Linked DNA regions of Homo sapiens: regions 2, 3 and 4 are each linked to region 1. The links come from fine-mapping of genetic effects on gene expression. A gene starts in region 1. Each other region holds a variant in brackets. All regions are shown on one strand. Distances are from middle to middle.

Region 1 (2,591 bases):
CACTGCGCCATGCCCACAGCCACGATCCCCACAACACACACACACACATACACAGGATATGAGACTCCCACTGGGCCATGCCCACAGCCACGATCCCCACCACACACACACAGAGAGAATATAAGTGCTCCTTGATCTGGAATCTAGAGTGCCACAGGGTCTCCAGAGGTCATTTGCCGCAAGCAGGGAAAACGAACACTCAGAAGACTTGTCTTGAGGAATCTTCTGATTCATCTAAAATGCTTAATGACATACATGTTGGTGCTTACCTGGGTGTTTTTTCCCTGAACTGTATTTCTCTAAAAATTAATGACTTATACCCTCCTCAGAGGTGCACAGACCATCTCCTCTGGCCCCCAGATCCTTGATAAATGAAGTCTTGGTGTACCAAGCCCCTTCCAGCCCCTCCTGCAGGATGACCGTGGGGCACCATTGCTACCGCTCCCGGGGTTCCCCATCTCCGTCTCTGTGCGACGGGAGGAACGCTTCCCATAGCAGACTGAGCAAAAACAGGGCTCAAAATGGTATAGACACACCATAGCTTCGTTTGAAAATATACATACATAAGGGGAGAAAGGATGGAAAGACCTCAAAATGGCTGCCATGGTGTTGCCACGGGCATGTGCTGGGGGGAGCAGGGGTACTGGTGATTGATTCATTATGGGTTGATCGATGGGGTATTTGACAAATGCTGGCTCTGGCAGCACATATACTAAAATTGGAACGATACAGAGATTAGCACAGCCCCTGCCCCCTTAGCTGGTATGGCATGCAAATTCATGAAGCATTCCATATTTACTTTAAAAATTATTTGGGAGGCTGAGGTGGAAGGATTGATTGAGCTTGGGAGGTACATGCTGCCCAGCTGACATGACACTGCTGCACTCAAGCCTGGGCAAGATCCTGTCTCAAAAAAAAAAAAAAAAGAAAGAAAGAAAAAGGAAAAGAAAAAAAGGAAAGGAAAGGAAGAGAGAAAAAAGAGCAAGCGAGAGAGAACGAGAGAGAAAGAAAAGAAAAAAAGATAAAGAAAAAGAGAGACCTCTTGCTCTCTCTCGAGGGACCTCTGCAGACCCTCTCCTCCCCAAAGGTGGGTCCTGTGGTCTACAAGATTTCCTGTACATTGCGAGCCCCCGCGCCCACCCAAAAAAAAAAAAAAAAAAAAAAAAAAAAATTGGTCGGGTACAGTGGCTCACGCCTGCAATCCCAGCACTCTGGGAGGTCGCTGCCGGCGGATCCCTTGAGCCCAGGAGTTCAAGACCAGCCTGGGCAACACAGTGAGACTGTCTCTAATATATATATATATGACAACGCCTCTATAATACGGCAATAGGAACTGTGGCATCAACGTAGGTATACAAGAGGCCCCGAGAGAGCGAGTCCCGGCCGCGCTCACCGCTGTAGTAGGGCAGCCACCGATACCGCCGCCCCTGGAACTCCGCTCCGTCGAACTCCGCGCACTGCTCGGCCCGGAAGTCCCGGGCGCCGTCGGGGCAGCTCTGCGGGGCGGAGGGGAAGTCGGGATCCAGGAGGGCGGAGTCCGAGGTCCGCCCACCTCCCGCCCCGCCCGAGCCCAGGGAGCCCAGGAGTCTCCCTTGCCTGCCCCATCGGAGCCGCCGGAGGTGGAGTCCGCCCCCCGGACCCCCGAACTCCTGTGCGTGCCCCTCCATGGTGCTCTAGGCTGTGGAGGGCAAGGCCAGTCCCCGGGAGCAGGGTGAGGAAGGGGCCCCCACGCAGCCCTGCTGTGGATTGGCGGGAGGACCCCAGGCTGGGCCAACCCAGCAGCCCGCGGCCAGGAGCGGGCATCCCAATGGGGAAATCGGCCAGGAGGGGCTGGGGAAGCTGGTGCCTTCGCCCGCGCCCCGTGAGCTTTACCTCCGTGCGACAAGAGCGGTGGCTCCGGGCGGGGCCCACGCAGCTGGAGCCTCCATCTCTCCTGCGGGACCAGAGCACCGGGAAGACCTGACCGAGACCCAACGTCCCTGCCCCCGTTCTGGGGCTCTCTGCAGGCCCCAACTTCTGCGGGACTCTCCAGTGGGAGCAGCAAGGTGAGAGGGTGTCCCCCGACCCCACCCCGTAAATCCCCCAGGTGGGAGTGAGCGACCCATGTTGGTACTCCAGAGAAGCGGGACTCAGAGCCCTACCCACCCTATAGTTTGGATTTAAGGCGGGACCACTCCACTGCATCTTAGGCAGATTCCCAGAGAAGACCCGAGGTGCATGAGATATAATACCCACCCGCTTGGCACAGCCATCCTGCGATCTAAGCAGGACATCAGTATAAGGCTCTTAGGATCATTCCTGGTCTCTCATTCCTCCTCACATAGGGTTCTCAGGAACAACCCCTATACAAACCGGGACAGAGGCACCTCACTACTCCTTCTGTGCCCCACCTTCTCCACTGACCCTGCCGGAGTGCAGCACACACAGCAAGCATTTAATAAATCGCTTGAAGTGGGGAACATCTGTACTCGGTAAAGAAACCACAGGAATTGGGAACTGCCGGTTGAAGATTATTTACCAGTTCCAGCAAAATTGACTGCACCTGCCATACTGCAGGCCGGTGCAGCATCAGGAGCTGGAGACCAGGGGCA
Region 2 (2,591 bases), 250 kb before region 1:
TGCTTTCCTTGGAGATCTCAACTATTACGCTCTGCAAAAGTCAGATCAGTTTCAAGACTGCTACAGACCTAAAACCCTGCCCCTTAATCTGCCTAGTTTCTTTTTAGAATCTTTGGCATTGCTTCTCTTTTTGACATAGATAAATAATTGTGCCTCCTTTCCCCATCACCCTGCTGGGACTAGGCAGGTCTTCCATGTTATTTGTTCTATATTTCATCCCAAAATAGGCAAATATCCTAACAGGCAAGGATGGGATGGAACATCCCTCTTCTAGGAATCCTTTGGAGGTAATGTCCCATTCTGACCTATCCCTAAAATTCTAATGGTGATTACCATCCAAAAGGGAAGGTATTGTTTGCAAAACTCAATTTATTTCTGGATGCTAGAATATAGTAAGCTCAGTCTTCAGTGACATGCTGCCCTCTAATCTCTGCAGCTTTGGGACAGATTGGGCAAGTAAGTCCCGAGCTGACGGATCTTCTGCTCTGGGCTATCCACTATGAAGAGTCACCAGGTGTACGGCTGGAAGCTTGCCGTAGCATCCTAGCCCTGAAACTTCAAGGGGACCGGGTCAGGGACACCTTCCTAGACGTGCTGCTCCTGGAGAACCACGATGCTGTTCTAAAGTAAGCACTAAACCTCTGGCTCCCACCATGACCTTATACTGCCAACTCTCACATCTTTGCTCATTGAATATGTCCCTGCCTTTCCAGGCTACCTAATGGCAGTAAAAGCACTGGTTCACCTGCACATTCACCACTCACCCAAGTAGGTAACTGAAAAACTGGCCTAAATTAGATTGAAAGTCAAGCTTATGTAGTTCATGCATCTTTTCTCCCCACCAGGATGGGTTTTGGCCGGGTGTGATGACTCACGCCTGTAATCCCAGCACTTTGGGAGGCTGAGGCAGGAGGATCACCTGAGGTCGGGAGTTTGAGACCAGCCTGACCAAAATGGAGAAACCCTGTCTCTACTAAAAATACAAAATTAGCCAGGCATGGTGGCACATGCCTGTAATCCCAGCTACTAGGGAGGCTGAGGCAGGAGAATCACTTGAACCTGGGAAGTGGAGGTTGCGGTGAGCCGAGATGGTGCCATTGCACTCCAGCCTGGGCAACAAGAGCAAAACTCCGTCTCAAAAAAAAAAAGGATGGGTTTTAAGTTATTCATATATTCAACTAACATTTATCAAATGCCTATTGGGACAACAAGTTTTAGAGTCAAAAAGACCAGGGTTTGAATTCCAGCTCTGGCATGCAATAGCTATGTGAGCCCGTGTAAGGTATTTAAACTCTGTGAGCCCATTTTTTTCATGTATCAAATGCAGGTGATAGTCTACATTATAGGGTTGTGGTGATAATTAATGAGATGACATGTTTAGCGCCTGTCATAAAGGTGTTCAGTAAATGGTACCTATTGG[C/T]ACCTTCAAATATATTGTCTTGGCCAGATGAGGTGGCTCACATCTGTAATCCCAACACTTTGGGAGGCTGAGGCAGATGGATCACCTGAGGTCAGGAGTTCTAGACCAGCCTGGCCAACATGGTGAAACCTGTCTCTACTAAAAATACAAAAATTAGACGGGCATGGCCGGGTGCAGTGGCTCACACCTGTAGCCCCAACACTTTGGGAGGCCAAGGCGGGTGGATCACCTGAGGTCAGGAGTTCTAGACCAGCCTGGCCAACATGGTGAAACCCCATCTCTACTAAAAATACAAAAACTAGCTGGGCATGATGGCACGCGCCTGTAGTCCCAGCAACTCAGGAGGCTGAGGCAGGAGAATCGCTTGAACCTGGGAGGTGGAGGTTGCAGTGAGCCGAGACGAGATCGTGCCATTGCACTCCAGCTCTGGGAAACAGAGCAAGACTCCATCTCGCAAAAACAAAAAGTAAACAAAAAACCCACAAATATATTGTCTCAAAAACTGCACATTATTCCTGTAAGCTAAGCATTATACCATTTTTGCATATAAGGCTCAGCAAAACTGCACAGTTAGGATTGGAACTTGGGATTCTTACCTGATTCCAAGTCCTATATTTTCTACCCCCATACTTTTTTAAAGGGCAGGGTAGAATAATCTAAGAAGCCCTTCTTATCTTTCAGAGAAATGTACCAGACAATGAAGATACTCAACTTAGGAAATGAAGGAAACCAAGAAATGCTTCAGGAGATCAAGAACAGGGTAAATAAGTGCAAGCTCTGTTCTCAAGAGAAAATTCAGGACTCTCAAGAGTTCCTCAGACCCTGTCCTCCTCAAACATGTACATACCCTTTTTCCCACCATAGAAGTACTTTCTAAAACCCCAGACACAGATGCCACATCATTTGAAGATGCAAAGCATCTGTGCAAGATTGGGTTACAAGGTCCTACTAGTAAAGACAAAAACAAAACAAAAATCCTATTAGTCCTATCAAGTAACCCTCATTGTTTCAGAAATACTATTTCCCTCCCTTCCTATTTTCTCCCCATCAACCCCAAACCCAAGTTGTTTATTTTTCCTTTTTTTCAAATAGGCATAGAGAAGGAATAAGGGACTAGAGCTGGCCCCCTAGATTTTCTTCTTAATTTTTCTGAATTCCTAATCTGGGTTTT
Region 3 (2,591 bases), 120 kb after region 1:
GTGTATGAAAAGTAAACGACCAAATAACACTAAAGGTCCTAGACTCTCTACAGTGATACATTTTCTTTTGCTTCAGAAACGTTTGTAACTTAGGAAGAGGAACAGATAAGTGAATGATAAAATAAATGGTGGCAAAACCCAATAGTAAGTGGTAAAAGATGAAGCTGAAGGGCAGGGCATCAAAGAATTACTTGGGGGAGAGGGTTGTTAGACTAGAAAAGCTGCATCAGTCACTACTAAAGTCAGGGCCTAGGCAATGGGAAAACAAAAACCAGCTCTTCACACTAATGATTCCAAAGGAATCTACCTCATTAACATTTTCACATAACAACAGTTTGCCTTAATTTATGCACAGTGTCGCTGCCATGCTTCTTATATAGGAGGAAAGAAGAATTGTTATGAGATTAAATATTGCCGTCAAGGCTTGGTGCATGGCCACATTTTATCTTAGTAGCTCTCACGTCATTTGAATTCTTTGCAAGCATGGGTTTCCTTAGATTGCTTAAAATCACGGGCTGTCATATCTTCCTCATCTTGTTCTAGCCTTAAGTTCTGAATATGTGTTGGGATTCAATCAGGCTGGTGGGAAAAACATTAAAGATTGTTACAGAGACAGATACAATTCTTGGAAGGCCGAGAAGTTTGCATAGCTTCGGTGATAGATATGGTTGAAGGCAACCTGATCTTTACTTTTAAACAAATTAAAGTAGTAATAAAGGAAGGCAGAGTAGTTTACCTAGTTTGTTTAGTCATATGATCTTAAGACTAATCTTGGATGTACCACGGGGGGTTAAGTGCTTTTTACTTGGGAAGTCCACAATATCAATTACCCTCTAATGGTGTTGACTCAAGCCATCCTTAATCTTTTTGAATAAATGCAAGTCTCACTAGCTGACTGAGGCCTAGTTGCAACTGTTTTCAGAACTCTCCAGGGAGTCTGTAAGCAGTGGGACACCCTCAGCTGGACTGGCAAAACAGA[C/G]TATCTGTGTGTCAGTGTACTTTATTCATCTGTCGCAGGGTCAGGGTCTGTGGGCAGACCCCTGCAGCTGGTGCCCTGAGGCGCGCTGCCGCAAATGTTTGTCACTATTTTGTTAATTCTAAGTTCCTTCTTTAACCAAGAACCTGGACCCTCTCATTTAGAAAGTTGCCTCGACAGTATACTGAACAAAGTAAAACTTTGTTTTGGTACTTTTCTATCTACAGTAACAGACCAGTCTCTTCACCTGGGTACATTTACAAAACTGTAAATTGACAGGAAAAGATTAACTTTCATGTTTTTGGATTCTACAATGTGAAATGCTCACTAGTTTTTCCTTTATCAAAAAAGCTTATGCCTGTAATCTCAGCAGTTTAGGAGGCTGAGGCTGAAGGATCACTTGAGACCAGCCTAGACAACACACTTCATCTCCACACAAACACAAAAAATAGGAGGCATGGTGGGGTGCACCTGTAGTCCTAGCTACTCAGGTGGCTGGGACAAGAGGATCACTGAGCCCAGGAATTCGAGGCTGCAGTGAGAGCCACGATTGTGCCCCTGCAGCTTTACAGGGAATCCTTGTCTCTAAACAAATAAAAAATGTCGGCCAGGTGCAGTGGCTGACACTTGTAATCCCAGCACTTTGAGAGGTCAAGGCATCGTTTGAGCTCAGGTGTTCAAAGCCCACCAGGGAAACATGGTGAAACCCTTCCTCTACAAAAATTAGCTGGGTGTGTTGGTGTGCACCTGTGGTCCCAAGTACTTGGGAGGCTGAGGTGGGAGGATCACTTGAGCCCAGGAGGCAGAAGTTGCAGTGAGCCAAGATCTTGCCACTGCACTCCAGCGTGGGTGACAGAGGCAGACCCTATCTCAAACAAACAAACAGAAAGATTTCACGTGAATGCATGTAAAACTACTTGTCATTAGTGGTTATTTAATAGTGCAATGCTAGACCATGAATTAGAACCCCATATATACTCCTCTAGATAAACCACCTGCAGGGACTACTGACATAATTACAATGGGCAAAACAGACTAGGTGACCTCTAAAGCCCCTTCCACATATTACTACTTCTACTGAGAATCTTCCTATTTCCCATTTCCTCTCAGCTTATCACATTTGATAATTCACATAGTATTTTGTATTTATGTCTAATGATGTTCCTGAACTCGTGTAATTTTTTTTGCCACCATTAGATGATCAGCTAACAGAAATACATGTATTTTTTTGAGATGGAGTTTTGCTCTTGTTGCTCACGCTGGAGTGCAGTGGCGCAATCTCGGCTCTCTGCAACCTCCACCTCCTGGGTTCAAGATGCTGTCTCAAAAAAAAAAAAAAAAGTAGACAGACTCAGGAGTGTCATTTAATTCAAACAACATGGCTTGAAAAGAATTTTTATTTTTGTTTCTAGAAATTATCTTCTTTACCTGGGTATTTTAGACTGCCATTCTTTAATTTCGCCTTCATGACTCAAGTAATGAAATGCAAAGATTCTGTCAATTAAAAATGTAAGCATTCAAATGCAAATAAATTAACATAAATATTTCAGTATTTTACCATAATCACATTACAAAAAATCTATCAGTTTATCAAAAAGTGTAAGTTCACTTCGCT
Region 4 (2,591 bases), 130 kb after region 1:
CCTAATTTTATTTCATTTTTTTGTTTTGTTTTAAAGGGGGTTTTCACTTACACTTTTTGGTATGATGAATTTTTTGTTAAATAAACAGATACAATAGAATTAAACTAAGGACCAATTAGTGCAAAAATGCATTAAATACAGCTCTCCAGGATTTTTAGGATATGCCTCATTTCTGAGCAATAAAATTAAAAGGAAAAATCACTATGATCCACATTCCTTTAAAAGAGAAGCTGAAGCAGCCATCTTATTAATAAGAAAACCCCATCCAGTTAGCAAACCACATTGCTCACGACACGAGAACACCATGCTCTGGGAAACTAATAACCTAATTATAACAGACATTTCAGGTTGGAACAGTACCACTTTTCCTTTACAATTCTATTCTTTAGTTGGGAAATGTTTTAAGGACCCCACCAAAGCAAATTAGGGAAAAGAAAGACTTTTACACATACATTCACAAACACATTCATACAGAAATACAGTAGGAATGGATTGTCTGCTAATTTTTGCATTCCAATTTTAAACTCCATGCCTTCACAAGGGCTTGCCATTTCTGATCAAAAGAGAGTGGGGGTGGTAATAGTTTATGACTGGTGTTTTCAATTAAAATTGTTCATGTTGGTTCCTATACAGTACATTTCAATATTAAGTGCAATTCTGCAAAATAATTGGGGAGTCGTTTTAATATTTACAAGAAACAAATCAGCAGAACAAGATTATATCAGATAGGCTGTGTACAGTAGCTGCGGCTTATAAAACATACCAGTAATTTGTACCTGGTGAGTATAAAGAGAACCAAGGATTCAGATGACTTTACAACCAAGGGAGTACACAGGGCAACAACAAATTAGAGGACCAAAAAATTCACATTTTCTACAAAAAAAAAAAATTACAGATCTCACAATGTCTTCAAAGACAAAGAAAAATTCAAAGTCCTTAAAAGGGTGGCAAAGAAGAAATCTGAAATGGAACTCTAAATATAAAAAGTTTTACTTCACAAGACCAATTTTCTTGGCTTCTGTTTCATATATCAATAATCTCCACATTTTGACTATAAAAACTTCTGCTTCTTCATCAAGTACCTAAAGAGGAAACAAAACAGCAACACATGTAAGAGAAGCAATCATCAACATCTGCCAAAAACAGTGGCCAGTATAAAAAAGTTTTTCATCCACTGACAATAAGCACTTATTACTTAAATGCTAGTTAAGATTTTAAGGTTGTTTTAGTGGCCGGGTGTGGTGGCTCACGCCTGTAATCCCAGCATTTTGGGAGGCCGAAGCGAGCGGATCACAAGGTCAGGAGATCAAGACCATCCTGACTAACATGGTGAAACCCCATCTCTACTAAAAATACAAAAAA[C/T]TAGCTGGGCATGGCAGCGTGCGCCTGTATTCCCAGCTGCTGGGGAGGCTGAGGCAGGAGAATGACGTGAACCCAGGAGGCGGAGCTTGCCAAGATCGCGCCACTGCACTCCAGCCTGAGCAACAGAGCAAGACTCCATCTCAAAAAAGAAAAACAAAAAAAACAAAAAAGTTTTAAGGTTGTTTTGAGGGGATACATGAGATTCTGTATTGTTATTACATAGTTGTATATTTAGTTCTTCTTAAATTACTACGTTCTTTATAATACGTATTTGTTTTCCTTAGGAAGTAGTTTTGCTTTCAGTAAAATGACTTAAAGAAAATTTGTCCAGTGTGAGAAATGTATTATTAATAAATAGTAAATGGACCGGGCACAGTGGCTCACACCTATAATCCCAGCACTTTGGGAGGCTGAGGCAGGTGGATCACCAGAGGTCAAGAGTTCAAGACCAGCCTGGCCAACATGACGAAACCCCATCTCTACTAAAAATACAAAAATTAGCTGGGCATGGTGGCCGGCACCTGTAATCCCAGCTACTCGGGAGGCTGAGGTAGGAGAATCGCTTGAACCTGGGAGGCGGAGGTTGCAGTGAGCCAAGATCATGCCACTGCACTCCAGCCTGGTCAACAAGAGCAAAACTCCGTCTCTAAATAAATAAATAAATAGTAAATGTAAATTAACAACGACAACAAAAAAAAATCATTCAAAATTCCATGGCTTACTAAACACAAAGAGTACCATATTTTTGTGATCCACCTTTTATTCTTTTATTTTACCTTTACAGATACTGCAATTATACATGTCTGACAAAACTACTTCCCAAGGAAACCATACGCTTTTCATAAAGAACACAGTAATTTAAGAAGAACTAAATAATATACAATTACATAATAACAATACAGAATTTCATTTATCTCCAAAAACACAACCTCACAAACTTTTTTTTTTTTTTTCTGGAGACAGGATCTCTCTTGTCACCCAGCCTGGAGTACAGTGGCATGATCATGGTGCACTACAGCCTTGACCTCCCAGGCTCAAGTGATACTCCCACATCAGCCTCACCAGTAGCTAGGACTACAGGTGTGCACCACTACTCCTGGCTACATTTTTGTGCTTTTTAGTAGAGACAGGGTCTCACTATGTTGCCCAGGCTGGTCTCAAACTCCTGGGCTCAAGCAATCTGCGCACCTTGGCCTTCCAAAGTGCTGGGATTACAGGTTTGAGCTGCT

Alleles and levels. Positions count from the first base shown, and alleles are read on the strand shown. Sizes are in standard deviations (SD) of each study's normalised expression. Not every link is listed here.
For the expression in esophagus muscle of the gene that starts at base 1,568 in region 1, C is the high allele of the variant in region 4 and T is the other (small effect, 0.27 SD a copy in GTEx).

Evidence for each region. PIP is the estimated chance that this variant, and not a neighbour inherited with it, causes the effect. A credible set is the group of variants that fine-mapping cannot tell apart.
Region 2: its variant is the best candidate, but not a certain one, in a credible set for the expression of PAPLN-AS1 in testis (GTEx, PIP 0.58).
Region 3: its variant is the best candidate, but not a certain one, in a credible set for the expression of PAPLN-AS1 in esophagus muscle (GTEx, PIP 0.80).
Region 4: its variant is the best candidate, but not a certain one, in a credible set for the expression of PAPLN-AS1 in esophagus muscle (GTEx, PIP 0.55).

Annotation. Positions count from the first base shown.
Region 1 is chr14:73,244,978-73,247,568 of GRCh38, reverse strand. PAPLN-AS1 (PAPLN antisense RNA 1) reads left to right here and starts at 1,568. Exons shown (of 2, transcript NR_135248.1): 1 at 1,568-2,045; 2 at 2,325-2,591. It overlaps PAPLN (papilin, proteoglycan like sulfated glycoprotein), which reads right to left. Exons shown (of 27, transcript NM_001365906.3): 4 at 1,873-1,933; 5 at 1,394-1,496. It also overlaps the pseudogene RNU6-419P. RefSeq lists enhancers at 1-308, 447-516 and a silencer at 1,464-1,733.
Region 2 is chr14:73,496,190-73,498,780 of GRCh38, reverse strand. It overlaps HEATR4 (HEAT repeat containing 4), which reads left to right. Exons shown (of 18, transcript NM_001220484.1): 14 at 437-626; 15 at 2,102-2,180. It also overlaps a transcript of ACOT1 not described here. Among named protein-coding and RNA genes, the nearest start is that of RIOX1, 6.6 kb to the right of the region's middle. The variant C/T (reference allele first, on the strand shown) is at 1,421.
Region 3 is chr14:73,123,643-73,126,233 of GRCh38, reverse strand. RBM25 (RNA binding motif protein 25) reads right to left here. Exons shown (of 19, transcript NM_021239.3): 19 at 2,335-2,591. Among named protein-coding and RNA genes, the nearest start is that of PSEN1, 12 kb to the left of the region's middle. RefSeq lists an enhancer at 542-1,081. The variant C/G (reference allele first, on the strand shown) is at 980.
Region 4 is chr14:73,118,204-73,120,794 of GRCh38, reverse strand. It overlaps RBM25 (RNA binding motif protein 25), which reads right to left. Exons shown (of 19, transcript NM_021239.3): 19 at 1-1,082. The coding sequence ends at 990. Among named protein-coding and RNA genes, the nearest start is that of PSEN1, 17 kb to the left of the region's middle. The variant C/T (reference allele first, on the strand shown) is at 1,363.